Homo sapiens: one gene and its partners. The protein of the gene in region 3 interacts with the protein of the main gene of each other region in a pairwise test. Each region holds a gene or a part of one and is shown on either strand. Other genes may lie near its edges.

The links.
Region 1: the proteins of FATE1 (region 3) and SLC7A14 interact in binary tests that used the Homo sapiens proteins (3 or more experiments, as listed by UniProt).
Region 2: the proteins of FATE1 (region 3) and SYNDIG1 interact in binary tests that used the Homo sapiens proteins (3 or more experiments, as listed by UniProt).

Annotation. Positions count from the first base shown.
Region 1 is NC_000003.12:170,583,076-170,590,805, forward strand, and holds the start of SLC7A14 (solute carrier family 7 member 14), read right to left. Parts: upstream 3,001-7,730; 5' UTR 2,836-3,000; intron 1-2,835. UniProt on the Homo sapiens protein: Imports 4-aminobutanoate (GABA) into lysosomes. May act as a GABA sensor that regulates mTORC2-dependent INS signaling and gluconeogenesis. The transport mechanism and substrate selectivity remain to be elucidated.
Region 2 is NC_000020.11:24,542,598-24,549,628, forward strand, and holds part of SYNDIG1 (synapse differentiation-inducing gene protein 1), read left to right. Parts: intron 1-422; 5' UTR 423-500; coding exon 501-980; intron 981-3,271; coding exon of another isoform or gene 3,272-3,274; exon of another isoform or gene 3,275-6,032; intron 6,033-7,031. UniProt on the Homo sapiens protein: May regulate AMPA receptor content at nascent synapses, and have a role in postsynaptic development and maturation.
Region 3 is NC_000023.11:151,719,025-151,723,715, reverse strand, and holds the end of FATE1 (fetal and adult testis-expressed transcript protein), read right to left. Parts: intron 2,322-4,691; coding exon 2,215-2,321; intron 1,814-2,214; coding exon 1,735-1,813; intron 1,089-1,734; coding exon 957-1,088; 3' UTR 522-956; downstream 1-521. UniProt on the Homo sapiens protein: Involved in the regulation of endoplasmic reticulum (ER)-mitochondria coupling. Negatively regulates the ER-mitochondria distance and Ca(2+) transfer from ER to mitochondria possibly implicating it in the regulation of apoptosis.

The DNA.
Region 1 (7,730 bases), on a different chromosome or scaffold from region 3:
ATCCTTAGGTCTTATTAGGGCCTTTTCCCAGTCCCTATGAGAACATGGGCAGTTGCTTAGGGTAACCAATTTTGGGAAAATTATTTTTTGGGGAATAGGTCATAGAAGAGGAGATATAGACAAGATAGGGCAAGTAAAGAAATGACACACTACCATTCCCATTTGTGAATTGCTGCTTCAGAGAAAACTGTTACTGAGGAAGGTGGGTCATATCTCCCAGGTATGTTGGGTTAGACAACACTGGAATAGTAGGACCAGAGGGGAAAGAGCTGGAAGACAAAGGAGTTGGAAGAAAGGTAAGAGGAATGCTTGTATGTTAAGTGTTTGTATTTTTGGCATGTTGTTTAATTTAGTTCACTGATGCTGACGTTTAGTCAAAGATAATCAAAGAAAGCAGTATGGAAGAGTATTTCAGACACCATGAAATAGTGGGAAAGGCCCTGGGCCTGGAATCAAGTTAACTGGGTTCTAATTTTTCAATCATGTGACTTAGACTAATGACCATCTTTTGGTTTCCAAGTTTTCTTTCTTGTAAAACGATGGTGCTAAATGATATTCAAAGCTATTCTAGTTCTAAAATTCAACAGTATAATTCTAAATATGAAAGTACATGTGGACTCTAGTTCTCCAGACTTCCTGAAGCCCTGCTACTCTTTTAGAAAAGGCTGCTGGTTTAGTTCTCTAACTTGTTTCCATAATATTGGAGCTGAAGTTGTGTGAACAGTGGTATCTCAAGCAGCATGCAAAAGCAGTTGGGAGGGTGGGAGTGCATGACAGTGAGTGGGTGAACGGATTAAAGAGAAAAGGGTTGGAAGAGAGGAGAGTGTGTGAAAGAGAAGAGCAGGCCTCCCTCCTTTGTCATTCTCCTGCTATAATCTCCAATAACAGCTATTCAGAGCCAAATACCAAAATGAAGGCATGAAAATGGCTTGGACTTTGAGTTAAATAGATCTGATTTTGAATCCAATCTCTGGAATCAAGTTTCTGTTTCCTTCTCTGTGTGATACTTTTGGTTGGCAGCTATTGTGAAGTTTAAATGAAATATTATTACCCAGCAGATAGAGGTGTTCAGTACAAATAGGCCTCCCCAAATTGGCTCAATCCTTTCCCCATCTTGCCCATAATATAAAAGACTAGCTAAAGAAACAAACATACAGGGCTGCTTAGCGATCTTTATCTAGAGCATGTAAATAACATGCAGTGGGGAAAGAAGGGTTCTAAGAAGAGGAAAAAGCTACAACCATGAAGCCCCTCCTTTGTGTAGCCTAACAATTCTCTGATTCCTGAAAGCCACAGAAATGTTTATTATCAAAACAGCATCCCTAACTGCCTTTCAACACTTTACCGACAGGAAGTCTCACTGCTCAGGTATAGGAAGTAGAACGAGGAAGCTCCCGAAGTTAGCAAAACTGGATCCTGAAGTGACACCCGCTTCCTGCTCTTCCACTCAGGAAAGCCGGGAACCTTTTCCCAAGCGGAGTCCTGGGGAAGCAGAAAACCGGGAAAGGCAAAGCCCCTTCTTCTCCTGTTTCTCTAGGTCGCTTGCTTAGAACCCTTTAGGGTTCTAACGCAGTTTCTGCTCGCAGGGAATGTGGGCCCTGGCGGTATTAGCACCCAGCCTCTGAGAACTTTCAGCACCGCGGACAGCGCCATTCCCTGCACTCAGTCGGAGGAGGAGAGCTACCTTGCCCCCAGCGCTCTCCTAGACCCTATACCTAGGGGGAGGCAGGGTGACATCCTGCGGCCCTTGGGCAATTCGGGCCAGTGACGTTCACCGACACTCAGGCGGGGATCCCTTCGCCAGAGCCAGTTCCTTTGAGTGTCTCCGCTCAAAATCTCAAGGAAACGAGCTTCACACAGGTGGGGGGATGAGGAGTGCCAGAACAGGAGCGAGCCCCGCTGCTCTAGCCTTCCTGCATCTCTTCTCGCCTTTGCTTTGCTCACTCTTCAATCGCAATATAAAATACTCATTTGGGGAGGGGGCAGGGTGACACAGGAGAGAGAAGGAGGGTGGGGGCTGCATCCCGCGTGGCCACGCAGCCCTAACCTGGCCCTCTTGGATTAGAGGGGAGCTGATGTGCTTTGGAATGGGAGAAGAGAGGAGACTGAGGGTTGAAGCAGTGCAGGAGAGCTCCCCTTGCTGGGGCTGCCGGCTCTGGGCAGGGAGCTTCCCTGGACACCGCTCCCGTCACGTCCTCTTCGCCGCTCCCGGGAGAGTCACCACTCTCCGGGGACAGACGCCCCTCGGGGCGCCACCATCCTGGTCGGGGTGCTGGGCTCGGCGGGAGTCCCTTTGAGGAGTTTGCTCCCAGGTAAAAGGGCAGACGTTGCTCCCGACCTCCCCGGAGTCTGCGGCCGGAAAAGCGTCTCCGTTTCATGGTCTCGGTCCGAGGCGGAGAACGGAGCTGCCCGTGCGGGGTGCGCGCCAAGGCGGGGGACAGGACGGGCCCGGCGTCTGCCGAGACCTAGGCTGCCCGCATTCCGCTCGCGGCTCCCCTTCTGCCTCCCGCTCTAGCGGCGCCGGAGCCGCGCTGGCCCCCGCCCCGCCCGGCAGCTCCCGCGAGTCAGAGCCCGGTGCCCCCAGACCGCGGGCAGTCGGGGCCTCATTCCGGGCCAGAGCAGGAAAGAGCCCGACCCACCTCCTCGGTTCTTCCAGGGAACCCCTTCTCGGAGGGCGCCCTGGGCCTCCGCGCCATATTCCTGGTCCCCCGCTCCCGGTGACTCCGGCTCCCTGGGTCATTCCGGGAGAGGCGGCCATCCCAGTTGCAGGGGTCCCGCTGGGGCGCGGGGGGCGCGGAGGGGGACAAACGGCAGCGAAGGGGGCCGTTCACTTACCGGGGTCGGGGCTGGAGGCGACGAGCTGGCTGCCAAGGCTGGTGGCTGGCAGTCCGCACTTACTGCGCGGAGCTGTCTCTCTAGCTGGGATGGGAAGTGGTGGTGGCGGCAAAGGAAGGCAGGAGGCAGCCGCTGCTGCTGAACAGCTCCTCAATTATTCAGATTGGGCCCCCACCCCCCGAACCCCTCCCCGTGCCTGCTCGTCCTCCCTCCAGCTCGCCTGTCTCCGCCTCCTTGGAGTCACATGGCCTGCCCAACCCCTTACATACTGGGCCCAAGCCTGGCACCAGACCACCTCCCACCTGGCCCCCCTGCCTTCCCCTCTGTCTGCCGCTCACAACTCCTCGCTGGCCTTCTGAGCCTCCAGTTGTGACCTCCAGTGTCTTATGTCAGGCTGCAGGGAGGTTGAGGGGGCCGTGGATGGGGGCAGTTCTTTGCCCTGGGAAAGCAGGGACCAGCAGGACTCTGCAATGTCTGTGCGTTGGGAAGGCATCTGCCGCAGCTCTGCCCCTGCTAGACTGGGCTGTCCAGACCTCCTTCCTGCCCTCTGGAAGCTTCCCTCATCCTCTGCGGAGCCTTCGTTGCTCTTAAACTTCCACATCCCTGAGCCCTACAGGAAAGAAAAAATGAGAGAGGTTGATTTCTCCTCTCCTCCTAAAGAAGACAAGACCCACCTCTGTCTTCAAAGCTTAAGTTTATCGTTGGGTTCACAACATCTTATGGGTGCAAAGATCATGGACTTGAGATTTGAAGAGCCATTAGGATTCCAATCTGTATGACCTTGGAGCATTTAACTTTCTAGCTTTTCTTCTCTCGTCTGTGAAATAACCACCTTGCAGTATTGTCATGAGATTGAGAAATCATCATGTTCTTAGAATTGCCTAGCCTAGAGTTGGACAGGTATTTGGAGCTCAATAAAGGAGAGTTCTTTTTCCCCCACCTTTGTTAAAATAAATTTCACAAGGCAAGAAGGATGTGATGTGTGCTAATACAGTGAAAGCATCTTTTAAACATGGAAGGAGGCATCTGTGAGGTCAGGCTAGACAAGTACCAGTCTAAACGGAGACAAGAGTGAGATAAGGTTTCTGTTTTGTATTAGCTCCTTTAAGATGAGTGTCCTAGAGCCAGGTTATGTCCCAAAAGGATTGGGACTAGATGGGACCAACCCAGGCATGCTTGGCCACATCACCGAATGAATTATTTAACAAGCATTGAGTAGACTGATTTGGATGAAAGTTATCTACATAAATTCTTGCACTTTGGCCCAAGCCCTCAAAACACATGGGAGGCAACAAAATGTAACTCTCCTATCCTTGGAAATGAATTCACTGGGCTTGTGTTTGGGGAGAATACTGGCTGACTGATACTCCTCTAGGGTGGAGCAGTTCAAATCTAGCTCTACTTTGTGGGTCTGCCCTGGGCTCTTCCCAGAAAGTTGCTTGATCATTGCCAGGACAGTCTTGGTTAGTCCACCTACCTCAAGCTTGTTACTGCCTTCGATGAGCATCTAAGCCTGACAATATCCCCATATTTTAAGCTTTGAGTAGTTCTGCAGGATATGTTAGACCTCCTGGGATCACCAAGAAGCTGTGAGACATTGTAGGAAAAGTGCAAAGTTAAAAAATCAGAAATTTGGAATCTCAGTGCAGGTTCTGCCAGCTACTTATCATATGATTTTTCACAAATCACTTAAATTGTCAGACTCTCATCTTCAGAATGGGAAAGGAATGTCTACCTGCCTTCTATATAAGATGGTTGTGATGTTTAGATGGGATAGCACATGAGAAGTCACTGTAAAAGGTAAAGAGTATGAATACTATGGGCTGAAGAAAACCCTGAGTCTATTCTAGTCCAAATGAATTATGAGGGTGATAAGATGGGAAGATGGGATTTGTCATGGAATATGCAGCTACTAAAATGTTGGTGTGTTGCTCTAAGTCTGCATGTATGCCTGTAGCTCAGGGGATGTGATTATTGGAGAACTGCATTCTTTGTTTCACCTTTTTCTGGATAAATTTCTGATTTAAATCTCCATATTTCCCTGGCCTTTTATTTCTGGAACACCAGCCACAATCACAATAGTTATGAATATTTACTATCTGAGAAAAGTTTGTGCCTATATTTCAAGACAGCAGGGTTTAGACTTTTCTGCCTTTGCTAGGTAAAATTGACTTGGGTTGGTAATTCAAAATGGCTTCGATTTCAAAGAAAAAAAATTTGGATTCTAGGAACAAACTCTAGACATTCATCAGCAGCTTGAATGATGATATGTGTTTCTAGTCCACTGCCAATAAACTCAATGAAATCCTCACACAAACCAGGAACTCCTGGAACCCTCCAACCTTAAGCAGATTCCAATCCTATCTCCTGGTGTACTTCCCCTTAATATTCTTTGGAAATTGCTAATCTGGACCTCTTTGTATTTAGGGAGACTAAAAGACCAGAAAGTGTCAACCATGCTTCTATATATACCACTGAAAAAATTGTCTGGGCTAGGTAAAATGCTGCTTCTGACTCCTGCCTACCTCTCCACTGACATCAAGAAACATGAGAAAGGGAAAAATAAGCATGAAATCATTTAATTTGGCCATGATGCCTTTATGAGCAGTTACCTGGACAAGCATAAATTTCAGAAAATTTTGAACAGTTTCACCAGAAATTGCTCAAGGACTCTGAATATATATTTTTTCAAAGCAGTTTTAAATGTCCAAGGCAACTTTACCCAGTGAAGAGCAGAAAAGGAAACTTAGAGAACCGATCTTGCATAGATTGCAGTAGAAAGTTATACCTTAGCAATGATTTCTTGTAAAGGTTTCCCTTGGGTCCTCCCTTACTTATAAGCTCTTGTCTTTTGCATGATGATTGTTGACTTTATCATAAGCCACTGCAAACACTTTCCAGCTGTAAGTAGAGCATTAATGAACAAAGAAATATAAATGCAGCAGACAAAAATTTAATTATTTAGAGCCATGCACAGCCGCAACAATTGGTGAAGTTCCAGAGTTCAACAATGATCTTACAAAGTGACTACTAACTAGATCTTTAAAGTACACATCCTTGTTTTCTTGTTCCTACAGTTGAAATGTGGAAGTGTTGATTCATGTATTCAACATATTCTAGACACTTAGGATACAGCCATGAACAATACAGAAATGGTTCTGCTCTCCTTGAGCTTACAGTCTAGAGCAGGGGGTCAGACCACAAACAAGTAAACAAAGCAGTGGAGATAAGTATCATGATGGAAATACAACAGAACAATATAATGAAGAGTAAAGGGGCACCACTTAAGTGATAGAGAACTAACATAAGCAAATGTGGGGCTCAGAGACAAAAGCGATTACTCTCCAGGGAAGCAGCAGAGCACTCTTATCTAGGGCCTTTTGCCAAAATAGGGTCATTAAAAGGGTAACGACTAAAATCCCTCATGACTGACCTGCTTGAATGGATGGTGGTTAAGCCATGAGGGAATTGGCCAGATGCCTTAAAAACAATTCTCCATTTTTGTCTCATGATTCATGAAAATGAGTACCTGATGCTTTCTTCTAGAAGGACCCCAAGCTCATCAGTGCCCCTGACTCTTGCCTCTGAGCAGATTCAAAACCTGAGAAACCAAAGACACTGTGATAGCCTGGCTAGAGGCTCGTCTGGAACTTTCCAAAGGGAGCAGTACCTTTGAGCAGCAGGAAGACAGAAAATAAGACACACAACCAGAACCTAGCATTACCATAGGCACACCATAAAGATCTATTAAACAAACAACCTGCTGCTAGGATCCTACCAATTGGACTGGAAATTTATAAGCAAATTATCTATGAGTAAATTATCCTCTAGGTATTTAAATTTCAAAAGGAAGAAGGAGGATGCTGACCTAAGCATGCTCATTTTATTCCTAAATTTACAATAGAATATAGCACTTTCCCCACTCCTACCCCATGCAGAGTAAATAAAGTTGCCTAATCAGTGAAACTATGGAGTCAAGACAGAGGTCAGGACTGTCAAACCAATGGAGTTCCTTGACATGGAAGGAATCGTTAAAGCAAACAGTTCTTCCCATTTATTATGTGTTTCCTTCCTTTAATTACATTCACTTTCCTAAATTAATTTATTTTAAAGAGGTTTTCATCACTACCTTAAATAGAAAACTGATATCAGTTGCCATAAATACAAGGCAACTATTTAAACAAACACAATGAGAATAAAACAATGCTATTATAGTCAAGATAAATACCTTTGCCTTCCCAGGAACCGAAGGCTTGCTTTCTCCTTGTTAAAAAGGAAATTAGCAGCTGTTAGTGAGGTGTTAAAGACATTGACATCAAACTGTCTTTCTCCATAAAGTAACCAAAAAGATTGAATGATAAGTGGAAAAGGGATAACCTTCCCACTAGGTGATTACAGGCCATTTAATGTTGAGTCCTAGTACCATCTAAATCAATATTTCTCTAACTCTAACGTGCATAGAAATCATCTAGGGAACCTTGTTAAAAATGCATAATTAGATTCAGTAGGACTGGGGTGGGACTCAAGAGCTCGCATTTCCAGCACAATCCCAGTGACACTGATGCTCCTGATTCTTGGACTACTCTTTGAGTAGCAAGGATCTTTGAATAGCAAGTGCCTTTGATGCTGTATTTTCCATATTTTGGGAGATACTAGCTCTTATTTTAAAGATGAGAAAAGTTAGGACTCAGAGGGTTTGACTAACCTCGGTTAGTTTTCTTGTTCTAACAAGTGGAATGTGGAAGTGTTGATTATTTATTCAACATATTCTAGACACTTGGGATACAGCCATGAACAATACAGAAATAGCTTTGTATTAGAACTATTTAGTTGGTAGGTGAGCCAGAGCTAAAACTTACATTTCACAGATCTGTCTCCAAGTCTGGGTGCTCCTT
Region 2 (7,031 bases), on a different chromosome or scaffold from region 3:
TCCTGCTTGAATGAACAGCCATGTACCTGGGAAGAGCTAATCGCCTTTACAGATTTGCAGTTCTGTTTTCCTATGGACTTGTCAGATGCTAATGCGATTGGGTTTACCTGTGGGTTTCAGGATGTCTGCTAGCAATCAAAGGTTCCTCTAGGCTGCAAGGGAGCCAATTCCTGCAGTCTCCTTCATTTGGAAGCAGAGACTTTATAGAGATTCAGGTAATCAATTTCTGCTAACTCTGGCTAGCCGCCCCCACAGACCCTTTTTAACATTCACTGAATAGGTAGGACTGCATTTTATCTAACTCTCACAGTTACTATGCGTTTATCAGCTGGCTGGTACAGTCTGAAACAATGTGGGTCTGGGTGATTAGCTTGTTTTCAAGTGTGATTCTCTTGTCTCATCTCTGTTTTCTCCTCCTCCAGGAGAAATGGCTTCCCTGAGGCAAGTGTAACCTACATTCCCAGCCCACCAGCCTGACGCCCAGCCAGGGAGAGAGTACCATGGATGGCATCATTGAACAGAAGAGCATGCTGGTGCACAGTAAAATCAGTGATGCTGGCAAGAGGAATGGTTTAATTAACACCAGAAACTTGATGGCCGAGAGCAGAGATGGTCTGGTGTCTGTTTACCCAGCGCCCCAGTACCAGAGCCACCGGGTGGGGGCCAGCACAGTGCCGGCCAGCCTGGACAGCAGCAGGAGTGAGCCGATGCAGCAGCTGCTGGACCCCAACACCCTGCAGCAGTCAGTGGAGTCCCGCTACCGGCCCAACATCATCCTCTATTCAGAGGGCGTGCTGCGCTCCTGGGGGGACGGTGTGGCCGCCGACTGCTGCGAGACCACCTTCATCGAGGACCGGTCGCCCACCAAAGACAGCCTCGAGTACCCGGATGGGAAGTTCATTGACCTCTCAGCTGATGACATAAAAATCCACACCCTGTCCTACGATGTGGAGGAGGAGGAGGAGTTCCAGGAGCTGGAGGTCACAGGATGTGTTTGTCAGAGGCCCTCTAAGAATGTGTGATGGGGATTCTAGGGAGGGCAGGAGCCATGAATGCCTGGCAAAAGTTAGGGAATGAAACTAGTGTGCAAAAATGCAGAAACCAAAGGCAGTCTTGGTGCCCTTCACTCTTGAGTGCTTATGGAAGATAGAAGGAGAGGAAAGACTTAGATTAACAGAAACCCAGGGGCGCTTCACCGGTGATTCTGGTATGAGATGACCCCAGGTAATGGCTGCAGATGGCAGTGCTGGTGGGTTCATCGGTTTTCCCTGCTCTCCCGCATCCCATGAGACAGAGAGGTCATTGACAAGATGAGAGAGGGACACCTGATCCTAGAGCCACATGAGGCTGGAAATATACTTGACAGGGGACACTTTGGGAGGTGCTTCTACTGTCACCTGTGGTTCCTTGACTTTGCATTCCACAGTTACTACTGAGAGATTGTTGATAGAGCTGAACCGTGCTGGAAGAAAGTGTAGGTACTGATAGCCTGAAGGGAAGATAAGTTGACTTCTTAGATGACTCGCTTCTTTAATGGACTGGAGGGCAGGTGACAGCATTTGAATTACATGCACAGAGATGTACACACTGCACGTTGGATATAGTGTGGTAGGCACAGTGGTTGCTGAGTGTGTGGCACATTGTCCCCCCAGGACAGCACCGGTGAGAGGGTGAGAGCAGCTGCTGCAGGCCATGGACTAGCGGTTTGCTGCCCATGCCTCCCAAGTCATTCCACTGCAGTGAGGCCAGGGGTGTTTTCCCAGGACGCGATGTCAGGGAAACACGTGCCAGGCTTTCCGTCAGTTTGGTGGGGAAGGAAACCGCCGAGCAGGTCCAACCTTCAGAGGCAGTGTGTGGCCAAAAGGGGAAGGGATGTCTGTTTTTCACTAAGGTAGGCGAGAACATTTTTGTAGGTGGAGAGGAAATGTTCAGAATGGAAAATTCAGGATCGTGGCCAGCAGCTGGGGAGTGGTCTTGGGGAGGCAGGAGCTGAACTCCAAGCATGTATGTGTGAGAGCTGGCCTCTCAGAAGAAGTCCACATGCTGGCCTGGGAGAGAAGAGAAGGGTGGGGTAAGGGAAAGTTTGAAGGGCTCTGGGTTGAAGAGGAAGAAAAGGAGGGGTTCGTGTTGGCTGAGCATCAGCACAGCCAGAGAAGCTCCTGGGGTGTGAGGAGATTGCAGACAGTCTAGAGCAATGAACTGGGGGAAGTGCCCATTCTAGAAAAGACTCCTGGAGAAACTGCCCAGCTGCAGTATGAGTTTGTGTGAAGATCTGGTCAGACCCAGGGCTCTGTGACTTTCTGCAGCCATGTGGGACCATCTTTAGCAGGTGAGGCTCCCTTGGCAAGGTGCACTCTGCCTGGAAGGTGGAGGAGGCAGGAGAAAGCAATAGGGAGGAAGTTTGGAGCAGAATCAGACCCACAACCATGGGACCCCACACTTGATAGAAAGGCCGGAGAAATTGCAAGGGAATGACAGGCCAAGGAGACCAGAGGATCAGGATTGGAGAGACCCCATTGAGAACCAGGAGCTGAGAGATCCAGCGTTAGTCAGGAGGGAGGATTAGAAATGGAGAGGGAAACTTTGGTGCAACTCCAGCCGGTGGAGCCCGGGAAGCCCACTGGCAGGGAGTGGAGAGTCGTGGCATGGAAGAGGACCAAGACGTGATGCCTGGGCATCTGCGCAGGCCCCAATGCCCTCTGGTGACACCTGTGAAGGGAGGGCACTCACGCTGCAGCTGTGGAAAGTTGGGAGCATGCTTGGCTTCTGTTCAGAAGCCTCTGCCCTGTCTACTAAGTTTTCCAAGATCTGAGGGCTTTGCTGACAGCAAAGCGTAAATGCTGCCCGACTCGCATGGAGTGGAATTAGAGAGGCAGATGCACGAAAATGCAGCCCCAGGAGTTATGGGAATGGAATACCCCATCAGCTCTGAAGAGGGTCTGGGGCCCTGAGCTCAATGCGGGGTTCAGAAGTCATCACACAGGCAGGAGCCCTCCCCCGGCTGAGTCTTGAGGATGAGTAAGAGGAGGCTTGAGGGGAGCTTAAATAAAAGCTAGGAATGGGTGGGGGCAGACACAGACTTGTCTGTCTTAGTAGGTCCAAGGCTCTGACAAGTAGTATAGACTTCTGGGGAGGTAACCTTTCCCACCCAGTCCTGCTTCTCTGATCTAGCAGCAGAAGTGGAAGCCCACCAGAAACAATTCTTTTAATAATACAGCAATAAGAATCTTTAGTCATAATAACGGTGCCTACTCTGTATTAATATTTCTAGTGACTTTTGAATATAACGTAAGATGGAGCATGTTGGCATTTATACTAAAGTAACATCGATGAAACAGCAAGTTGTTTACTTAGGCACTTTAGTGAGACTTTCTGGTCGGCTTCCAAGGAGCTCACCTGGACCAAGAAATGGCCCCTTCCACAGGCTCTGAGCAGAAGGAATGGAGACACATTATGGCTGCTGCTGCTTCTACATGCGGCTCAGGATGCCAAGGAGGATTTCAGAGCCTCACCACGGTGGTTAACTTCGTCCTTTTTCTCTGAAAACAAAGATTTTCTCAGAAACATTCTTACAGTATAGCTATGGTGCTTTTCATTCCCTTCTTCGGTAATTAACAAAATACTAATGACTGGTTAGAAGTGTCATTGAACATGCAGTAGCTGTTCTTTGGTTTACTGTTTTCTCCATTCCATTAAATAATAAAGGGTCATGTATTGGTTAGCATTTGCTGCATAACAAATCACCCCCAAAACACAGTGCCTTAACAACTCTTTCTTCAGCTTATGATTTCTGAGGGTCGGCAATTGAGCTGGGCTCAGCTGGGTGATTGTTCTGCTGGTCTCACCTGGGCTCACTCACTTGTCCATAGCTAGCTGTGATAGGCTGGGAAGCCAGCCTCTGGTGGGCTGTTGGCTGCAGTGACAGAGGTAACTGCATCACCCAGCTGTCACCCATCCTGTCCCAGGCTTCATTTTGCGGCAGCCAGAGAGGTGGGGCCCACTTTGTGAGGGCTTGTCAAGTCTTTGCCTGTGTCCTGCATGTTACTATCTCATTGACCAGAGCAGGTCCCACAGCCAAGCTCAGTCAGTGTGGGAGAGACTGCTTAGGGTCACAATATAGGGAAGTGATAACAAATTGGGTGCCAGTACTGCAACCACAGAGCCAAAAACCATAGACTTTTGGCATCATTTTTTTTTTCAGATGGTCTAACTGAACAGAATGACAACTACTGAAACAAAAGAACAGTGAATACTGATCTGAGCTCTTTCCAGAAGGCAGTTCTACTCAGCCAAAAAAGAAAAAAAAATGTGATTTTTAACTTCTTTGAGTATTGTATAGCTTCACTTGGTTTATAGCAAATGGATACTGTTTCCCAAATAATGCCGTTTTCAAAAAGCCATTGCCCTGGTTCAGAATGGGGCCCCCTCATTGCCCTTGTTCAGAGGGGGCCACCTCATTGCCCTTGTTCAGGGCCCCTCCCATTGCCCTGGTTCAGAGTGGGGCCTTCTCATTGTCCTGGGTCAGAGCAGGGCCCCCTCATTGCCCTGGTTCAGAGCAGGGCCCCTCGTTTCCCTGGTTCTGAGCGGGGCTCCCTTGCTGGAGCTCCTGGGCACTGGGTGGCTGGCTGTGTTTTCCCCAATCACTTTCCCAAGACAGGTGCATCCCTGGCATTTATGAAGGAGCCTCTCCAGGTCCGAAGAGGTCGGCCTGTCTGACATATGTTTGCAAGGGCATGTGGAGCGTTCAGTTTGCCTTCGAGGTTGTGGTAGTAACAAGAACAGGTTCTATGGCTAACTTTGAGAATATTTATGGGAGGTTCTCAACTATTCGGCAAGTGTTTATGATCTGTCCTGCTCCACCTTAAGTCGCCAAGTAGAGCATGGCTTGACATTAGACAGGTAGATGTAGGGGACCTCTGGGGCTTTGCGGGAGTGCAGAGGTGCCATGCCGCTCATTATCTAGTGCCACTGCGCTCAGGGTGACAAGACAGGCATCCTGTGGGGGTGCCCTCAGGGCATCCTGGGTAGTGATAATTGGGCCTGATGTCCGACAGCCCAGGCCTCTTCCCAGGTATGTGAACACTGCTTCATCCACTTCCCAGCCAGTAGCTAAAAACTGCTGTCTCTGGGAATACCAGCAGTGGGAAGCCACTTCTCCTTTCACACAAATAAACTCAGAGAGACTTCAGGGACAAGTAATGAAGTAGGTCTACAAAATATACAATTTGAGTTTACAGCCATGAAATGAAGTGGATGGAGTCCAGGTGCAGAGGCCTGACCACCCTCCTGCCCTTAGAGATGGTGACCAGATGTTGAATGGCACTTACCTGTGGCAATGCAAAACCTCTCAGACCTGAAGTACATGACGGTCACCACCTAGAAGCGGTGCCCATGGGGGCTGAGCCTTTTCTTCACTGAAGGAAGAAGGGGGAAGGGAACGCTCATCGATGGAGCACCTTTTCTGCCACGCCCTCCAAGTGCACTTGGCCATCGAATCCTCGAAGCGCTTGGGGATGGGTCATGGTGCTGTCCTCATCCTACACGTGGAGAGACAGAAACTTGGGGTGTTTCCAAGATCACACACGTGGCTCTGCTGTCAGCCCTTGGATCTGAGACAGATCTCCTGACTTTAGACTCTGTCTCCTCATGATGATGCTGTTCTTTCTACATTAGGGGGAAAAATGTGTTCCAGTAAACTTCTGTTTCAGCATTATGCCAGAGTCCAAGGACAAAGCAGGAAGAGACGGCACCAGGACTTCACTTCTGTGAACTCTCCGCCAAGCTTTCCAAGGCCTTCCAGTCTGTCTTCCCATGTAAAAACTTGAAAGCTGTTGGAGGACACAGAATTCTATAACTGCAATAGAGCACTTTACATATACCTCAGTCATAAGTATGGAAAGAGGGGCGAGGACTCAACACACATGTGAAGAAAACCCAAAAGCATGAATGAGACAGAACAACAACAAATAGAACAGTTGACCCAGAGGAAAGAGAAAGAGTTCAGAAAATAATAAACAGCATTTTGAAAATTATTTTTAGTATCTCCAGAGAGATTTGAGGTGCTGCTGATTTGGGTGGAAGGAAATTTGGGGGTTTTGTTTTGCTCATTTGTTTGTTTACCTCATAGCACTGGCCAGAACCTCAAATACATTGTTTAGTGTGAGTGAACGAACATCCTTGCCTTGCTCCTGATCTTAGGGGGAGCTTTTAGCTTTCATGATGAAAGGTGATGTTTTTGTAGTTCTTTGTAGACACTCATAATCAGGTATAGGAAGTTCCCTTTGTCACTACTTTGTTGAAGAGGTTTTTTATTTTATTTTTTATTTAATTTTATTTTTTAATAGACAAATAAATGGGATATTCATATTCATGGGGTATATAGTGATGTTTTGATACATGTAACATATGGTGATCAGATCAGGGTAATTAGCATATTCATTATCTCAAACTTTGATCATTGCTTTGTGTTGGGAGCATTCAATAACCTCCTCTTAGCTATTTGAAACTGCATAATATATTATTTTTCAACTGTTTTCATGCTACAGTGCTGTAGAACACTGGAAGTTATTCATATCTAGCTGTAATTTTGTATGTTTTAATACATCTCTTCCTATCTCTCCCTTCCTCCTACTCTGCCCACTCTCTACTATTCTTCCTTCTACTTTTACTTCTATAAAATTAACTCCTTTTAGCTTCCACGAGTGGAACATGCAATGCTTAACTTTCCCTCCTGACTTATTTCATTTAACATAATGTCCTCCAGTTTCATCCATATTTGCTGCAAATGACATAATTTCATTATTTTTTTATGGCTGAATAGTATCCTGTGGTGTTGAAATGGGAGAGTTCCCTGATTCCCCTTGCAGGACGTGGGGTGGGTGTGGTTCACCTGTTCTGTTGCTGCTCAAACCCCTTGCAGGACTGGAGCATGCAGAAGGGCAGGTGCAGAGGCTGGGGCGAGTGCTTTATGCTCTGGCCTTGCAGTAGTGTCTAGGGGTGGGTGACTGCAACCCCACTGTTACAAAGCTCTT
Region 3 (4,691 bases):
TAGGGTGAGGGGTATGTGTAGCTCCCGTTCAGCCTCCAGAGCTGAGGCAGGACCTCATCTCCAGTGAGTCTGTCTGCAGGAGGCAGGCCAAGCCCTAGCGTAGGACTCAGGAGAACTCACGCCAGAGAACTCACATCCAGGCCCTGTCTCACTGGATGACCCAGGGACATGTTTCCTCTCTCTGGAATTCAATTTCCTCTTGCGCAAATGAGGTTTCTGGTCCCTTTCAGGAGATTTCCTCTGATTGCTTCCCTGCAACACAGCGCAGACATGCTCCCAGAACCACACCCCCACAAGCACTGGTTTGCATGAGCCCAACAGGAAGAACTTTGCAAAGCTGGGGCTGGGGACAGGGAGGTGGGGGAGGTGAAAGGGAGGAGGGAACCAGGGCCCCTGGGGCAATGGCAGAGGCTCAGTCCCAGCCACAAGGTCTCTGTGAAGAGGAGCTGTTGTTTCCCAGCGCACCCCACCTCCACTGTTGCCCCCAGTGAGTGCTGGACACAGGAACCTCAGCCACAGGGTTTTGCTGCTATGGCTGAACTTTTATTGAGCGTGTTGTCTGTGCAGAGCGCTGTGCACGAGGTGGAAGCAAACGAGGGAGGAAAACAAAGCCACACCCCTGCCCACAGAGGATGGAACAGAAGGGCCGCTGAGGTCAGGAAGGCAAGGTTGCCACTAGGTGTTACTGTGGGGCCCAGATGCCGCCATGCTGTTCACCCTTCAAAGGGTGGCATCTCAGCCCACGCAGTCCTCCTCCAGCTTCGCAGCAGCCAGGACCTCCCAGTGCAGTGACCTGGCCTCCCCAGGTAGGAGGCCTAACCAGAGTTGAAAATGATCCTGACGCTCCTGAGGGCTGCTGGGAGATGAAAGGGGCAAGGGCAGTGGCGGCCTGGGGAAAGAGGAAAGAAAGAAGGGGAAGCAGGGAGGGCTCCAATACGGAGGCCGCGCTGGGGCGATCACTGGTTCATCCACAGCCACAGGTTGGCAATGCTGGCCGACACCAGCACGGCGATGATCAGGGTCTCCCTGTGGCGCCAGGTGGCGCCCTGTTCCTCCAGGGCGCGCAGACGCCGGTTGACTGCATACAGCTGCAGAGGAGTCAAAGGCAGGGCTGCTGAGCGAGGCTCTTCTCCAGAAGCCCACAGCACAGCCATGGGAAAAGCATAAAGTTAGAGCAAGAAGGGGCTTGATTGCCCTTTGGCGGTGGAGCGGGGAGCGCCCCTAGTGAGAAGCAGGAGGCTGGGCCAGGTCCGCGGGACCAAAGACCTGGCTGCTACGTCTGCAGGCCCCACTTTTGCCTTCTCCCTTATGTTCACTTCCCTTCTCTGGAAGAGACCAGCCCATTCCAGCTGCGCCGGGGAGCCAAGGAAGAAAGGATCTCCTCCTAAGAAGGTCTGGGTTTGGTTTGAACAAAGGCGACCCCTCTCTCAGACCCTTAGGTATCACTCTCTCTCTGGACATAGAACCCTTATCCTTGTATGTTCCCTCTTCCTCCACCTTTTATCTGCCCCTATTCCCTACCAGCATCTCAGGGACAGCAGTGAGTTTGAGGCTGGACATCTATGCGGGGTGTCAGAGCCATGGGGATGAGGAGGAAGAGGAAGGGAATCTGCCCCACCTCCAGCGCTAAAGGGAAAGATGACTGTAAGGGACTACAGGACCCCAGCTGTCGAGCCCTGCCTATTCCAAGGCACTGTGATTCTGCTTGCACCCACCGATTGGGTCCCTCCTCACCTGTCTTCTCATGACTTCCATCTCCAGTACATTGAACTCTTCCAGGCTAGTCTGCGCCACTGCATCTGTCCCTGGGTTGCTGGGAGAGAAAAAAGACAGATGGTCAAAGCTGCTGGTGGTCCCTGGCAGGGAGCACAAGAAGGCAGTGAGGTCAAGCAGGTAAGGTCGTGATCTTCTTGGACAGTGACTCTATCAGCCTCCAGTCCTCTTCCATGGTAAAGAGGGCCTAGGGCCTTGAGGGCTGGGAGTCAGCCTGAGCTAGCCTGAGCCAGCCTGGCCCAGCCCAGTCCAGCCCAACTCGGCTAGGCCGCAGAGCACTGGGATGCCCCAAATGGGCAGGGAGCCAGGGTACTCATGGTCTCTGACAGGGAGGCATTCCAGGCCCTCATGACTCCATCCTGGCCAGGCTGCTCACCAGCCCCTCTGCCCCACTCCGGGCCCTGTCTGAGCAGCCAGGGCCCACAGACCCTCAGCTCTTACCGATCATAATGGAAACGTATGCCTTGGAAATTGCCAGCGTACTCCTGGAGATGGGCATCCCCATGGCCTGATTCTCTCAGCATTCTGGGCTTTGGCAGCTGGGACCCCTGAAGAAAGGAATGGTCAGTAAAGTAGCCTGCCCAACCCCACATGAGTGGCTTCTCCAGTTTGCCCAGAGCCAATGGTGCACCCCATGGGGAATCACATGGTGCCTGGTCTCTGGAATCAAGGGCTGGCAGCTTCAGGCCGCTAGGAAAGCTTGGGAACCCCACACAGGCTGCTGGCCACCACCCCACCCACACCATGCTCCTCGGTAGCTCTTGGTCATCCAGGCAGGCTGTGGCAAAAGAGGAGCAGTAACAGGGGTCCCTGTCCTCTGCAAGAACTTTCACATGCAGGTATTAGCTGAGAGGCTGAGCAACCTACTGAAGGAGAACGTAAAACCTTGATTGGCAGCCCAGGCCATGGAGGCCTGGCGAGATGCCTTTACTTTCCAAGGATGCGTGGTAAATGTCAGGGCTAAGGCTAGAACCCTGGCTACTGGGAAACCAGCAACTCCTCTGGGTAAGCTCAGCCAGCCATCCCTGTGGCTTTCATTTTTATCCATCTGCCAACAACTCCCTAGCATGTACATCTCTGGCCCAGAGCCCTTGGGCCAGGGCCATCTGATGCCTTTGAAGCATCAGTGGGGGATAGAGGAAAAGAGCGTGGCTTTTGGTGCCAGACCTGCCTGGGCTCAAATCATAGTTCTAGGTTTCCAGTTCAAGATGAAATGTTTCACAAGCTGCTTATTTAACACACACCACATGCCAGGGACCATGCCATCCTCTAAGCCCTTACCAATACTAAGTGACTGATTCCTCGTCACAGCCCTGTGAAACGGTATCATTATCATCCCGTTTTGAAAGTAGGGGAAACTGAAACACAGAGAGGTTAATTACCTTGTCCAAGTCACACAGCTAGGAAGTAGCAGAGCAGTAATTTGAACCCAGGACATTTCAGTCCAGAGGTTATACTCTCAGCCATTACACTACGATGTCCCTCATATTTAACACTCCTTCCTGTTAAGGCTCCACTAATTGCCAGTGAAGACAGTAAAACAGTACAAACCCATAAGACAGAAGACAACACAAGAGGCATCAGCTAATGAAAGAATTCAATAAAATTCTGGAATCTAGGAAGTGTCCATGGAGGAACTAGGCCTCATTGTGGATGGGAAGCAGATGGGACTCAGCTGACAAAGGAGGCCCCCGCCAGCAGCATCCAGAGAGGACTTAGACCTGCAAGGACAATGGCGGCATATCACAAGAAAGGAGGGGAGGGAGGAAAACAGGGCCTTTAACTAATGATCTATGTAGGAAGCAGTCATCCACACTTCTCACTCCTGGTTGGCAGCCAGGCACTTACCGCCAAGCCAAAACCTGAACCAAATGAATAAGAAAGCTGGGGTGAAAGTGACACAAAATAAAACCGTCTTCATTCTGGCAGGGTTCAGGGTGCCCCACATGACAGCCAGTTCCTTACCCGCTCACCCTGCTGAAGTAGAGCCTGTCATTTGAGAGGCCTGACTGAGGCGCACAGAGTACTGGGTTAGCTCTTCTATTTGCCTCATTCTTACAAAAAAATAGACAACCAAGGCTCACCTGTCACCTGAGAAATATCTGCAGCCCTCTTCTGTTCCGAAGTAACAACATCAAACTGAAGGTGGATCAATTTCTGTGTAAAGGATTTTCATAGGAACTTTGCCACTGCACTCTGTTTGTTGCAATAAGGCATAACTAATCTTTCTCAAGAGGAGCACACAGATATTGGTGCAACTTTTTTATGAACCGTAGTTCATGGTCACAATATTTTATTTTCTTAAGATACTTCAAAAATTGCATTAAAAAGATAATGGGTATTAGGGAGACCCCATGACTATAATTTGATCAATGATGTCTCTTAGAAAAATTTTCAGACCATTGCTTGATTTTCCTATAAATTGGAATCAGAAGGACAAAAAAAATTTTGAGAGATTTGAAGGCAAAAAATAAGGATGAATGGCTGATGGCTGGAATTTGTTTGTTTGTTTCAGATAACATAGTTTGTTGTTAACCCACCAAGTCCCAACTTCTCTCTGTTAATCATTTCAAAAAATGTTATTTTAATTTCCATGTAATTTTAAAGGCACACTGCTTTTTTCCAAGTCAGCAGGATAGCATTATTAACTTTTCTCACCCTTGCATATTATGGTTCTCCTAGAGGCAGTTCCATTAACTGTTTTATTCAAAAATAAAGGAATGAATGAATTAATAAATAAATAGAATTAGTAAATTAGATTTCCTAATTCTAAATTTCTAAATTTAATTTATAAATTCAATATAATGTCTATATTTTCAAACAGTCTACCTCTAGCCCTTGTAGTCAACTTTAATTAAACCAGAGATTATATCTCCCCTAGTCTCAGGGACATTAGTGGTTTGCAGGAGCCTGACCTC